Linked DNA regions of Homo sapiens. The protein of the gene in region 1 purifies or fractionates together with the protein of each later gene. This does not show direct contact. Each region holds a gene or a part of one and is shown in the gene's direction. Other genes may lie near its edges.

What was found.
Region 2: the proteins of ARSB (region 1) and TXK fractionate together in Homo sapiens (co-fractionation; one large-scale study listed by BioGRID). This does not show direct contact.
Region 3: the proteins of ARSB (region 1) and IDUA fractionate together in Homo sapiens (co-fractionation; one large-scale study listed by BioGRID). This does not show direct contact.
Region 4: the proteins of ARSB (region 1) and QSER1 fractionate together in Homo sapiens (co-fractionation; one large-scale study listed by BioGRID). This does not show direct contact.

Annotation. Positions count from the first base shown.
Region 1 is NC_000005.10:78,779,311-78,782,810, reverse strand, and holds part of ARSB (arylsulfatase B isoform 1 precursor), read left to right. Parts: intron 1-836; coding exon 837-959; intron 960-2,148; coding exon 2,149-2,414; 3' UTR 2,415-3,500. UniProt on the Homo sapiens protein: Removes sulfate groups from chondroitin-4-sulfate (C4S) and regulates its degradation. Involved in the regulation of cell adhesion, cell migration and invasion in colonic epithelium.
Region 2 is NC_000004.12:48,110,251-48,113,750, reverse strand, and holds part of TXK (tyrosine-protein kinase TXK), read left to right. Parts: exon of another isoform or gene 1-9; coding exon of another isoform or gene 10-89; intron 90-441; coding exon 442-544; intron 545-1,238; coding exon 1,239-1,444; intron 1,445-3,147; coding exon 3,148-3,213; intron 3,214-3,221; exon of another isoform or gene 3,222-3,500. UniProt on the Homo sapiens protein: Non-receptor tyrosine kinase that plays a redundant role with ITK in regulation of the adaptive immune response. Regulates the development, function and differentiation of conventional T-cells and nonconventional NKT-cells.
Region 3 is NC_000004.12:1,000,544-1,004,043, forward strand, and holds part of IDUA (alpha-L-iduronidase isoform a precursor), read left to right. Parts: intron 1-68; coding exon 69-154; intron 155-338; coding exon 339-446; intron 447-924; coding exon 925-1,020; intron 1,021-1,135; coding exon 1,136-1,338; intron 1,339-1,438; coding exon 1,439-1,618; intron 1,619-1,725; coding exon 1,726-1,942; intron 1,943-2,188; coding exon 2,189-2,401; intron 2,402-2,492; coding exon 2,493-2,614; coding exon of another isoform or gene 2,615-2,801; coding exon 2,802-2,927; intron 2,928-3,005; coding exon 3,006-3,082; exon of another isoform or gene 3,083-3,086; intron 3,087-3,468; coding exon 3,469-3,500.
Region 4 is NC_000011.10:32,895,811-32,899,310, forward strand, and holds part of QSER1 (glutamine and serine-rich protein 1), read left to right. Parts: intron 1-3,500. UniProt on the Homo sapiens protein: Plays an essential role in the protection and maintenance of transcriptional and developmental programs.

The DNA of each region.
Region 1 (3,500 bases):
GATTAAATCTTTCTAAGTCAAGGGTCAGTTACAAACAAGATCTCTCTGCTACAGATCTGAAGCTGTATTCTCTCCAGTCAATTTTGTCAGTAACAAAAGCAGTATTTTTTGTTCCATCTGTCTATCTTCTACCTCTTAATTGGTTTCAAACTTAAGAGGTGGTAGAGATTAGTAATTGCTCCCCACAAAAGCAAAAAACCAACCTGATGATCAATTAAGATCTCAAAAATGATAAATTAATATAATCCATGATACCAGCCAAAAATTTGTATACCAAATTTGTTCTTACCCCCATAGTTATCCTGTCTGAATAGTTAACTGAGCACTGCTCACTTTTAGATTCCTTAAGAGTTGTTAAAAAATAAGTCTTTGTACTCTATCATGGCATGCATGAACTCTCATAGCTTGAAATGACTGCATGAAAATGTACATTTTATAATTTCTTATACTATTTACATAGGTATAAGTATACACAGAAAGTGTGTTTAAATGTTTAACAGCCAAAAACAAAAACCAAAAAAAAGTCACTCTGCTGTAACAGAACACTGTTCTGCATATGGCTAGCTGTACATTGGCAGAACATAGCGATTTTAAGGATGAATTAGTGTTGTAATCTCTTTGGGATTTCCTTTATATTTGCGGTGGTTTATGACTGACATTTCATGTAACTATAGCTTTCTGTTTGGATTTAATAAAAGATTCATTTCTGTGGCAAGATACACATTTGCACTCCAGTGTTGAATAAAAGCTACTGTTCTGCAAGGGTATAAAATGCTGATTTATAACAACACGTTCCAATAACAGTGATCTAATTCTTTCAAACTATTTCTTCCCAGGTCCCAGGAACAGCATGGCTCCAGCAAAGGATGACTCTTCTCTTCCAGAATATTCAGCCTTTAACACATCTGTCCATGCTGCAATTAGACATGGAAATTGGAAACTCCTCACGGGCTACCCAGGTAGAGTCCTTAGCTTAGCAAACTTCCCTTCCCGTGGTAGACAAAGCAGGGCTGTGTCCTCAGGGCAGTATCTCCAGTCTATCTGCCCTCCTGGGATTTGATTCCCACGGCCATTTCTCTGGAAAGAGAGGACATTATCACTCTTGTTCTAACCGTTTCCCACCTCTTCCTCTGTGGCTCCTCCTCAAGGCCCCTAAGCCCTACCACTTACCTCACTTTGCTCAGATACCTGAAATCTTAATTTGTCTTTCTAATCTTTCATGATCCCTCCTGATATATGTCCTAGAAAGACAACTATTTATTCAGGGTTTTCTTTTCCCAATTCTAAGACTCCGCCTGTTCCCAATTACACAGCTTCCATCATTGTCATGGTGCAAGTAAGCTTTCCCAGTGGATCATCAAGGAGAAGCTTACCGAAGTAACAAATGCCTTTTGCAAAACATATCTCTGGGGCTGCTGAATGAGGAGATAGGAAGAAATGGTTTAACCTACTCGTCCTAACCAAAAAAAAAAAAAAAAAAAAAAAAAGAGAGAGAGAGAGAAAGACAGAGAGAATTAACTGTAGCAGGGGTGAAAGGAAGAAATGTCACTCTTATGCTTCATGGAAAATACGGATTTTAAATATATGTGGCTATCAAGCACAGCACATTTAGCTAACAAAGAGAGTCTCTGAGAGCTACACCCTCAACCAGTGGTATAGCTGGGGAAGGAGGTTGCTCCTCTGATTATATTCTCTAAGAGTGATATCTTTTCAATACTTTTAAAATATGTGGGATGATGGTTAAGGCTGTGATGTAATTAATCAATGTTTACAATGAGAACATTTTTGGCGTTTGCAATATGACAAGTCTTTTTTGACTGGGATTGTCCCATGTATTGCAAGACTTTAGCATCACTAGCTCATGCCCACTAAATGCCAGGAGCACCCCTATGCCCTAGTCCTTGTGACAAGGACATACACACATGCACACACGTTTCTGGGTGTCCTTGCTTGTGAAGCAGTGAGACATGTCTAGTTAAAGCACCAGAAGTCAAGTCTGAGAAGCATCTAGAGACAGCATCTAGGGCCGCATCTTTTTATGTTTCCACACCCACAACCCAGTGCAGCCTTGGCCTCAGACTCCTTCCCTGAAATTAGAACCTGCCTCTGTGCTTCTCCCTCAGTAAACTGTTTTGTTTTCTTTGCTAGGCTGTGGTTACTGGTTCCCTCCACCGTCTCAATACAATGTTTCTGAGATACCCTCATCAGACCCACCAACCAAGACCCTCTGGCTCTTTGATATTGATCGGGACCCTGAAGAAAGACATGACCTGTCCAGAGAATATCCTCACATCGTCACAAAGCTCCTGTCCCGCCTACAGTTCTACCATAAACACTCAGTCCCCGTGTACTTCCCTGCACAGGACCCCCGCTGTGATCCCAAGGCCACTGGGGTGTGGGGCCCTTGGATGTAGGATTTCAGGGAGGCTAGAAAACCTTTCAATTGGAAGTTGGACCTCAGGCCTTTTCTCACGACTCTTGTCTCATTTGTTATCCCAACCTGGGTTCACTTGGCCCTTCTCTTGCTCTTAAACCACACCGAGGTGTCTAATTTCAACCCCTAATGCATTTAAGAAGCTGATAAAATCTGCAACACTCCTGCTGTTGGCTGGAGCATGTGTCTAGAGGTGGGGGTGGCTGGGTTTATCCCCCTTTCCTAAGCCTTGGGACAGCTGGGAACTTAACTTGAAATAGGAAGTTCTCACTGAATCCTGGAGGCTGGAACAGCTGGCTCTTTTAGACTCACAAGTCAGACGTTCGATTCCCCTCTGCCAATAGCCAGTTTTATTGGAGTGAATCACATTTCTTACGCAAATGAAGGGAGCAGACAGTGATTAATGGTTCTGTTGGCCAAGGCTTCTCCCTGTCGGTGAAGGATCATGTTCAGGCACTCCAAGTGAACCACCCCTCTTGGTTCACCCCTTACTCACTTATCTCATCACAGAGCATAAGGCCCATTTTGTTGTTCAGGTCAACAGCAAAATGCCTGCACCATGACTGTGGCTTTTAAAATAAAGAAATGTGTTTTTATCGTAATTTATTTCCCCCCAGCCATTGCTCACTCTGTCTAGACTTCCTGCCACTTCCAATTCTTCTGTGGCTTTTCCTGCCTTTCCTTTTGACCTCAGTAGTCCTATCCCTGGGAAGGCCACTTTGCTTCTCTACCTGAGCACCCCTGATTTCTGGAACGCTGCTGAGCCCTGCCTTACTTTTGCCCCTAGGGCTGAAGCTAGAGGCCTCCCCGTAATAGGCGGTGGAGTTGCTCTGTGAGGATGTTCATGGTAGACACTAAGAGGGCTGGGTGGGAGATGCTTGGCTCTGTGGCATCTGTTCAGCGAGGCTTTTCCTATATTGCATGGAGTTAGTCATTGTGATTGTAGCTTTATTTCATAATATATTAAGACTTGCACTGCTATTTACTAGCAGTGAGAAGAAACCTCAGGAAAGGATATGAAAAAGCAAGTGGCCAGTGTCTGGGATACTGGGCCTTGGTAAAGCAG
Region 2 (3,500 bases), on another chromosome or scaffold:
CACTATGAAATGGTGGAGCTGGGATTCAAACTCTTGTTCCTAATCACTATACCATGTCTATTTATAACAAAAAGACACCATCAAATGAGGTAATGCATATAAAATGACAAACACTGAGCCAGATATGGAGTAAGTTTTCATTACAATGATTATAACTTTATGCCCTGAAGATGCACCAGACTCTACTGGGAATGTGACATGTTTTCTCAATTTTATTTTATAACAACTCTATGCTCTTAGCACCTCTAGTTCCTGGAGAAGGAAACTTAAGTTCTTAAAACCAGTAATTTGCCCAGGGAGATGGAGTTAGGAAGCCTTCTAAATGAAAATGGAGTTGGAAAGAGACCTGGATTTTTCTGCTATTTCTGTGAAAATCTAGTGGATGTATAGATAACTTTTGTACAAATAATTATTTGTAACATGATTGCTTTTCAATGTCAGACAAATGAGAACACAGATAAGCCTGAGCACAGATGAAGAGCTTCCAGAAAAATACACCCAGCGTCGCAGGCCGTGGCTCAGCCAATTGTCAAATAAGAAGCAAGTAAGTATCATTTTGACAGGCAAGAGGGGAATGGAGAAGGTTGTCTTTTTAGAGTCTTCATTCATGAGGTGCTGTTTGTTGCCCAGAATCTAGTATCCTGCTTGGCATAAAATAAGTGCTCAGTAATTTGTGAAGGAATGTTCTAGAAGAAAGTAAAAGGAAAAAGAAAAGACCAGTTAAAATAGGCTACTTATATTTAAAGGCAGAACTTGAAAATGGGCAATGAGTGGGAAAAAACATATTCTGGCTTCTGTCATTTTGAGGCTGAGATTAATTTTCACTTCAGTGAGAAACAGCATTCTTAGGAAGTATGGTAAACCCAAGCACAAACTGCCACCACATAAAAAGAAAAAGGCCATTTTTCTTCTTTTAAGGAGAAAAAAAATCCTTAAAACAAGGTAAAACTATTGAAGAGGAGTACATCATCTTTTGAAAATTTTGATATGAAAAAAAATCCAGTAAAATGCTGTCAAGAGAACTTGTGATCTCAAAAGTGTACAAAATGATGAGTGTATTGCTGGATCCTAAAGGAGTTTTATAGTTAGTCCTTTTCTACATTTATCTCATCCTGGCTTCTGCCTTGGTGTAGCTGGATAAGAAAAGTGAGGCAGAAGGCAAATATGCTTTGTCCCTATATTTTTTAGTACAAATTATTAAAATGATAGTAAAACAACTCACTTATTGGTTTTCACAGTCCAACACGGGCCGTGTGCAGCCGTCAAAACGAAAGCCACTGCCTCCCCTCCCACCCTCTGAGGTTGCTGAAGAGAAGATCCAAGTCAAGGCACTTTATGATTTTCTGCCCAGAGAACCCTGTAATTTAGCCTTAAGGAGAGCAGAAGAATACCTGATACTGGAGAAATACAATCCTCACTGGTGGAAGGCAAGAGACCGTTTGGGGTAAGACACTTACATGACTTAGTCAGTATCCAATTCTTCCAACACAAAGAAGACTACTTAGTGACTCAGGCTTATAACTCTTCCCTCTGCATGAAATGGAATCTGTCCCCTCTCCCCCAGGATGTGTGAGAGAATGAGAGAACAGTGATTTCAGGCAGAGTCTCAGAACCAGATACACCTGGCTTCACATCCTGATGCTGCCGCTTACTATTGTGTGTCCCCGGGCAAGTCACTTACCGTCTCTGAGTTTTTGTTTCTTTATTTGTACAATGGAAATAATAATTCTGACAATGTAGGTTCTTATTCTAATTTGTGCTTTCATTTGGGAATTTGTCAGTTTTTTCCTGTTAAGCTCTAAGGTAAGAACAGAAATAGTATTTTATTCACTTTTATGTTTCTAGAATGACTAGTTTTGAAAGCAAACATTGCAGTCGCTGCTGAATTAGATTAGAAAGAAAAAAGACCCTGGGATGCAGATAGGTTTCATTGTGCCAATTGCAACAGATGGTTAATGCCTGACTGGAGTCCTGAGTTGAGAAGAATTCTGAGGAATATCTGGACTTCCTGAGAGAGAAGGCTGGCATTGATTTCTGATATTTGCCAAGATTTGGAGATTTTAAGTATCTAAGTATTATAAGCATGTAAATTACATACCTCTCCAACTACATTTTCTCAATGATGTGGCTCTCTTAACAGTTCTCAACATGTGGTGGAGACTTTTCAGTGGAAAAAGAGGCATTAGTAGGTTCAGGACTGTGTAATTAGCCACACCTGCGGGTATACTATTGGCATGCCTCAGACTTAAAAATTGAATTTTTTATTTCACAGTAAGTGAATAGAGTTTTTAAAAATATATAATATGCAAACATTAATGTCAAAATTCTGCTTTGCCACTACCTCCAAACCCAAGTGTCTCCCCAAAAGTAAATACTATTATCCATTTTCAGATTATTTTCAGTATACTTACATGCACATATCAAAATATATGGTATTGTTTGTAGAATTCATTTACCTAAATCTTATCTTACTTTCTGCATGATTCTGCAACTTACTTTTATTTCTCAATAATATGTCTTGGAGATCTTTTTGTAATTTCAAATGTTGGTTAAGGTATAGGAAAAGTGAAACTTCTACCATGCTGATAGGTGTGTAAGTTGGTATATCCTCCTTTGAGGACAATTTGTTGCATATCCTGAAAGATGTACATATCCCGTGACTTAGCAATTCCCGTCTTTGCTATCTGTCTTTGAGAAATATTCTTCTGTACAAGAAGGCGTGTTCAAGGATTTCTTTACAGCGTTGCTTCTACTAGCAAAGTAGCTAAACTAGAATACCTATGCTATGGAATACTCCTCAGCAATTGAAAAGAATGAAGTCGATGTCTTTGTAATTGCTGTGTTTTTAACATAATCACTATGATATCAGATGATCATTTAAGTGCCCCTTTTTCTCTCTGAAAAGATTGTGGGGTCATAAAACCTCTTAAACTACTCACATTACAAGTTGGCATCTTAATACATTCCTTGTACAGAGATTTTTGTTGAGTTAGAAATAAAAAAACTTTTTTTTCTCCTTTTAACAATTTAATCAGTAAAATGAATTTGATTTCCCCCCTACATCCTTGAGGTTTTAAAAGGATTGTTGCCATGATAATGCCACAAACATGCCAAGCATTTTGATTTTTGCTTTTTCTTTTGTTGTAGGAATGAAGGCTTAATCCCAAGCAACTATGTGACTGAAAACAAAATAACTAATTTAGAAATATATGAGTAAGTCTTCTCCAAAATATAACCTATGAAAATCAGGGACATTTTGGCAGCTTGTAAGTATAGATACTGTTTTGGGTCTGTAGAAGGAAAAAAAAGTAACACATTTGACAGCGTTAATAATAAAGAGACGTTTGATCCTTATCATGGTTGATTCAGAAACTTCTTTTCCTTATACTTATTTTTGTTCTGTTTTGTATAGCCACTTTTTCTGTTTTAACAGTGACAGCCTGAACCCAAACACTCATCTGGCACTTATTTTACTATATATCTTAACTGGAAAATTTACT
Region 3 (3,500 bases), on another chromosome or scaffold:
ACGGTTCCAGCCTGGAGCATGGAGCTGTGTGGGCACCCTGCTTCCTGACGCTGACCGTCCTTCTGCAGGGGGTCCACTGGACGGGGCCTGAGCTACAACTTCACCCACCTGGACGGGTACCTGGACCTTCTCAGGGAGAACCAGCTCCTCCCAGGTGAGCTGTGGGCTCTGCCCTCCCAGCCCGCCTGCACCCCCTTGCCCTGCCCACCCTCTCCCTCACCCAGCCCCTCTGAGTCCTTGGATGTCCATTCAGGGCTGGCCTTGGTGCCGGAGCACAGGCCTGGCAGAGCATGGGTGTGGTGTGTGGTGGGCGGTGGGGCAGCCCTCCTGTGTTCCAGGGTTTGAGCTGATGGGCAGCGCCTCGGGCCACTTCACTGACTTTGAGGACAAGCAGCAGGTGTTTGAGTGGAAGGACTTGGTCTCCAGCCTGGCCAGGAGATACATCGGTGGGCGAGCGCAGGCCCTGGGGCCCTGGCCGGGGCGGGGGTACTCCTGGGCAGGTTGCACCCCTATCACGCAGGCTGCTGCCTGGTCAGGAGATACATTGGTGGGCAGGCGCAGGCCCTTGTGGGGGGATGGGGGTGACAAGGGATAGGTTGGTGGTCGGCGCAGGCCCTGGGGCCCCAGGCTGGGGGGTACTCCTGGGCTTGGTGGGTGGGCGAAGGCCCTGGGCCCCTGGGGTGGGGGGTACTCCTGGGCAGGCTGCACCCCTATCACCCAGGCCGCACCCCTATCACCCAGGCCGCCGCCCAGGTCTTGGACCCCCTTGAGCCAGCGCTTCCTGATGTGGGGCGGGAGGCTGGCCTGCATGGAGATGGGGTTCATCTTGAGTCAGACGCCCTTCATCACCTTGCACCCTCCCTCCGTGGGAGTCACTGAGGCGAGATTCACCTGTGCTGGGGGGACAGCAAGGCTCCTCTGCAGGTAGGTACGGACTGGCGCATGTTTCCAAGTGGAACTTCGAGACGTGGAATGAGCCAGACCACCACGACTTTGACAACGTCTCCATGACCATGCAAGGTGTGCACCGCTTCCTGGGGTCCTGCCCGGCTGAAAGGGGGCAGAGGAAGGCAGGAGCAGAGGCTAAGCCGCTCATCCCCAGGGCAGGTGTAGACGCAGTGCTCCCCCGGCCCAGGCTTCCTGAACTACTACGATGCCTGCTCGGAGGGTCTGCGCGCCGCCAGCCCCGCCCTGCGGCTGGGAGGCCCCGGCGACTCCTTCCACACCCCACCGCGATCCCCGCTGAGCTGGGGCCTCCTGCGCCACTGCCACGACGGTACCAACTTCTTCACTGGGGAGGCGGGCGTGCGGCTGGACTACATCTCCCTCCACAGGAAGGTGCGCCCTGCCCCTCCGTCCGCCCCGGTGTTCTGCGCCCTCAGCCGCTGTGCCCCGGGCCGCGCTGACCCTGGTGGTGCTGAGGCGGCCCCGCCCGCAGGGTGCGCGCAGCTCCATCTCCATCCTGGAGCAGGAGAAGGTCGTCGCGCAGCAGATCCGGCAGCTCTTCCCCAAGTTCGCGGACACCCCCATTTACAACGACGAGGCGGACCCGCTGGTGGGCTGGTCCCTGCCACAGCCGTGGAGGGCGGACGTGACCTACGCGGCCATGGTGGTGAAGGTGGGCCGGCCCAACGCCCTGCGCGCCCCCCGGCCACCTTCCTCCCGAGACGGGACAGGCGAGCGGTGGCCGCGCCACCCGGTCCCAGCTGCCCTGGACACCCGCAGGTCATCGCGCAGCATCAGAACCTGCTACTGGCCAACACCACCTCCGCCTTCCCCTACGCGCTCCTGAGCAACGACAATGCCTTCCTGAGCTACCACCCGCACCCCTTCGCGCAGCGCACGCTCACCGCGCGCTTCCAGGTCAACAACACCCGCCCGCCGCACGTGCAGCTGTTGCGCAAGCCGGTGCTCACGGCCATGGGGCTGCTGGCGCTGCTGGGTGAGCCGGGGCCGCTGGGGTGGGCCGGCCAGGGCCCTCCAGGCTGGGGAGCGGCTCCTGCGAAGGCCCCGCTGCGGGGAGCGCACTTCCTCCAGCCGCGCGCTTCCCGGGGTCGGCCTCCGCGTGGCGGGGCCTGGGGACTCCTTCACCAAGGGGAGGGGGAGCGAGTGGTGGGAGGCCCGGCCCTGGGTCGGGGGGCGGCTGGGCAACGACCCCACGCGGCGACGGCCCCCCCCCGCCCCGCAGATGAGGAGCAGCTCTGGGCCGAAGTGTCGCAGGCCGGGACCGTCCTGGACAGCAACCACACGGTGGGCGTCCTGGCCAGCGCCCACCGCCCCCAGGGCCCGGCCGACGCCTGGCGCGCCGCGGTGCTGATCTACGCGAGCGACGACACCCGCGCCCACCCCAACCGCAGCGTCGCGGTGACCCTGCGGCTGCGCGGGGTGCCCCCCGGCCCGGGTAAGCCGGGGTTCCAGGGAGGTCTCTGGCCCCGCTGGGGCTCTGGAGGGGGCGGCCCGGGGAGCCGAGGCCTGAGTGTCAGGCCCCGCAGGCCTGGTCTACGTCACGCGCTACCTGGACAACGGGCTCTGCAGCCCCGACGGCGAGTGGCGGCGCCTGGGCCGGCCCGTCTTCCCCACGGCAGAGCAGTTCCGGCGCATGCGCGCGGCTGAGGTAGGTGGGCCGCGGAGGGGCGAGGGGCCGGGCCGGGCCGGGGTCCCGGGGGGGTGGGGTCCGGGGCGGGGGCTCCGAGGCGGTGTGGGTGGGAGGTGGAGCGGTGGGCCGGGGGCGTTCGCCCTGAGGTCGGGCCGAGCGTCCCCAGCTCCCCTGGAGAACCCTGAGGACCGGCCACTGCGCCCAGGACCCGGTGGCCGCGGCGCCCCGCCCCTTACCCGCCGGCGGCCGCCTGACCCTGCGCCCCGCGCTGCGGCTGCCGTCGCTTTTGCTGGTGCACGTGTGTGCGCGCCCCGAGAAGCCGCCCGGGCAGGCAAGTGGCAGTCCCCTAACCCGCGCCGCGGCCCGGACTCCCCTTCCCCGACGCCATCACAGCCCTTCCCTCCCCCAGGTCACGCGGCTCCGCGCCCTGCCCCTGACCCAAGGGCAGCTGGTTCTGGTCTGGTCGGATGAACACGTGGGCTCCAAGTGCGTGAGTGGGGCCGCCCCTCCCTCTGCCTGGTCCTAGGCAGGTCCCTGGGTCCCGACCCCTTCACCCATGCGGTCACTCGGGCCACTTGCCGTGGCCCATCGGCTCCCTCCCTCGCCGCCCTGCGTCCCTGCCCTTCACCCCACACACTGTGGGCCACGCGCCAGGCCCTGCCAGTGGGGTGTGGGTTCTCCTAGGGGACATGAGATGGACATTCGGGCTCCAGCCCTCTCCTGCCTGGGCAGGAAGAGTGCCCAGGGGCTGGGGAGGTGCCGCCGAGGGGCTTGAGGGAATGAGGCTGTGGGTCCACGCGGCCGTGCCCTGCCTGCTCCCACCTTTGAGGACTGTCTTGACCCCAGCCTTGTTCTTGGCCTGACCTCCCCAGGTGCCTGTGGACATACGAGATCCAGTTCTCTC
Region 4 (3,500 bases), on another chromosome or scaffold:
GGAAGGTACATGATAAACAGCTTTTCATGAGTTTGAAACAATACTTTTTTGAATACAACAGCTCTGTTAGTTATTAGGTAGTTTTATTGTACTAACAGTGGAAAAATAGAGTGGGAAACTCCAGCATTATACCTTAAATGGGGCTTATAGAAAGATTTTTGAATATTTCTCAGAGTACTTGCTAGGTACTTGGAAAGTACAGGGATAAGGACTGGCCATATAAATCTTCATTTATTTATGCTAATTTCAGTTCGTTTTAGGAACTAAATGAATGAACATGTCCTTTGCTGAACACCACGCAGTTGGAAATACCTTTTGGGGTGCAGTTTTGGATGTTGTAAATACCTTTGCATAGCTTGGGAAATAAGAAGGTCATCAAGAGTCTGCAGATCCATTGCCGCATTCTGTACTTGATACTTATATCTTGGTCACAACAGGAAGAGGCAGGCTGTTTTATGGTGATAATCGATGTGTTCGTATTTGAATATGCACCAGAAAGTAAGGGAATGGAAATATTTTGTATTTAAATAGGTTTATTTATTTTATTTTATTTTATTTTTTGCGATGGAGTTTCGCTCTTGTTGCCCAGGCTGGAGTGCAACGGCGTGATCTCAGCTCTCTGCACCCTCTGCCTCACGGGTTCAAGCAGTTCTCCTGCCTCAGCCTCCTGAGTAGCTAACCACACCTGGCTAATTTTTGTATTTTTAGTAGAGATGGGGCTTCACCGCATTGGCCAGGCTGGTAATTTTTGTATTTTTAGTAGAGATGGGGTTTCACTACATTGGCCAGGCTGGTCTTGAACTCCTGACCTCAGGTGATCCGCCCATTTTGGCCTCCCAAAGTGCTGGGATTACAGGTGTGAGCCACCGTGCCTGGCCTGTTTTTTGCCTTTCTAACTTGAAATAACTTTTGGCACCAGTTTTTAGAATTCCTAATGCATACTTTTTTTTAGTATGAGGTATAATGAGTATGATAAATACTCCTCTGAAAAACCAAAGTAATGATTAGCTCTTCTAAAACCTGTCAGTTTCTATATGATGGACATTTGTTTGATACATTTCAAATCTAGAGTTTTCCTCAAGGTTTTTGGGAAAAGGCCTTATAGATCATAATTTGTAAGGCGTAAGAACAATCTCAAGTTAATGAAAGGTTATTTCAGACAAACTTCCACTGTTAGAGTTCAGAAAGTTTTTTCCCATGGAAACCGTGTTGTAAGTAATAGTAGCTGTCATTTACATCACTAGCAACTAATTTGTGCTAGCTGTTTTAAGTCACACGTACATTCATTTATCAAAATTCATTTATCATGAATAAATGAATACATACATTCATTTATCAAAATTCATTATAAAAATCCTTTGAGGTAGGCATTCTTTTTACCATCCTTTTATGGATGAGGAAACTGAGGGATAGAGACATGAAGTAATTTATACCTACAGCTACATAGCTAGTAAATAGTGGTGCTGTGATTGAAACCTGGGCATTGCAGATCTGGAGCCTATGTGATAACCAGTGTACTGCACTGCTTTATTGTAAGATAGTGGAATGCTGTAATCCACCTATATGTGAAATGAGTTTCTGTGAGTTGGCCTGGAAACCTAAGCATCATTAATATCCTTATTTAAGTGTTCTTTGTCACCGTTGACCATTACCTAGTTGAAATACATTCCTTTTCACTTCCATAGCACTGTACTTGCCTGGTTTTCCTCCTACTTTTCTGGCCCAACGCTTTTTCCTGTTCTTCACTGGTGTTTACTCCTCTTCTGTCTAATCTCTGCATGTTACTGTTTCCTCAGGGCTTGGGATTGATAAATTTCTTGTTCATTCCTTGCTTTCTCCTGCGGACTCACATCCACGTCCATGCTTTTAAATACTATCTCAGTGGAGATGCCCATATTTGAGCAGACTCTTCTCAGGACCTCAGACTCTTCTGAAAACCTGATCACATAACCAACTACCTCTTTGACCTTTTACTTGAGCTTAATGATATGCTTTCCCCACCCATCACACCTCTGCTTCTCTAGTGAGGCCCATCTCAGTAGTCATACCTCTGTCCACTTAGTTGCCCAGGCCAGATGGTGGGAGTTGTGTGTGCTCAGTCACTAAGACCTACTGTTTTGAATCTAATGTCTTGAAACTGTCTGCTTCTTTTGTATCCACTGCTCCAGCTGGTCCAAGCCACCATTATTTTTCACTTGGACAACTGTGGTAGCTTCCTAACTTAGTCATCTTGGACCTTTTCTTTCCTCTCTTCAATTCATTCTTCTTATACCATCCAGAGTGATTTTTAAAAACACAGATCTACAAGTTTGCTCTTGGTCCTTTGCTTAAAGCCTTTCCATGGCTACTCCTACATATTAGGGTCACATTTTTAAACATCTGTAATATGGTCAGGCGTGATATCTCACGCCTGTAATCCCAGCACTTTGGGAGGCTGAGGTGGGAGTATTGCTTGAGCCCAAGAGTTTGAGACCAGCCTACGCAACGTGGTGAAACCCTATCTCTACAAAAAATAAATAGAAAAAATTAGCCGTGCATGGTGGCGTGCGCCTGTGGTCCCAGCTACTCTGGAGGCTGGGGTGGGAGGATGGCTTGAGCCTGGGAGGTGGAGGTTGCCGTGAGCTGTGATGGTGCCACTGCACTTCAGTGTGAGCGACAGAGTGAGAACCTGTCACACACACACACACACACACACACACACACACACACACACACACACATTGTAATGTGCTCTGTATGGCTCTGCGTTTACTGACCAATTTTTTTTAATTTATTTTCTTTTTTATTTTTTCTTGAGACAGGGTCTAACTCTGCTGCCTAGGGTGGAGTACAGTGGTATGAACACAGCTTACTGCAGCCTCGACCTCCTGGGCTCAGGTGATCCTCCCAAGTAGCTGGGACTACAGGCATGTGCCACCACACCTGGCTAATTTTTAAATTTTTTGTAGAGATGAGGTCTTGCTATGTTGACCAGGCTGGTCGGGAACTCTTGGCCTCAAGCAGTCTTCCTGCCTTGGCCTCTCAGGCGTGAGCCACCATGCCTCGCACTGGCCTGTATTAAATTCTTTGAATCATCCTAAATTCCTTCTTACCTTAAGGTTTTCATACATCGTCTTACCTTCACTTAGATAACTCTCACCCTATCCCCACCTCCCAGACTGACTTGTTAAGGTATCTCATGTGAGAAACCTGCAGTATTTTCAACCCTCACTCCTTGTTGCTTTGTGCAATGGTATATGTTTTCACAGAATATTTTATTTTACTTTCATATTCTTAGAAATATATACCTATGTATTGTTTATGTAATACGTATCTTCTTCAGAATGGAGGTTATTTGAAGAACCCCTATGTGTTTTGCTGTTATATTTGTAGTACTTAGTATTTACTTTAATCCATGGCATATAGTTGGTGCTTAATACATACTTATATCATGAAAGCCAGAACTCTGCTTCAGTGTGGGAATTGGAAGCCCCTTTCTTCCTGTTGCAGCCTCTAATGCC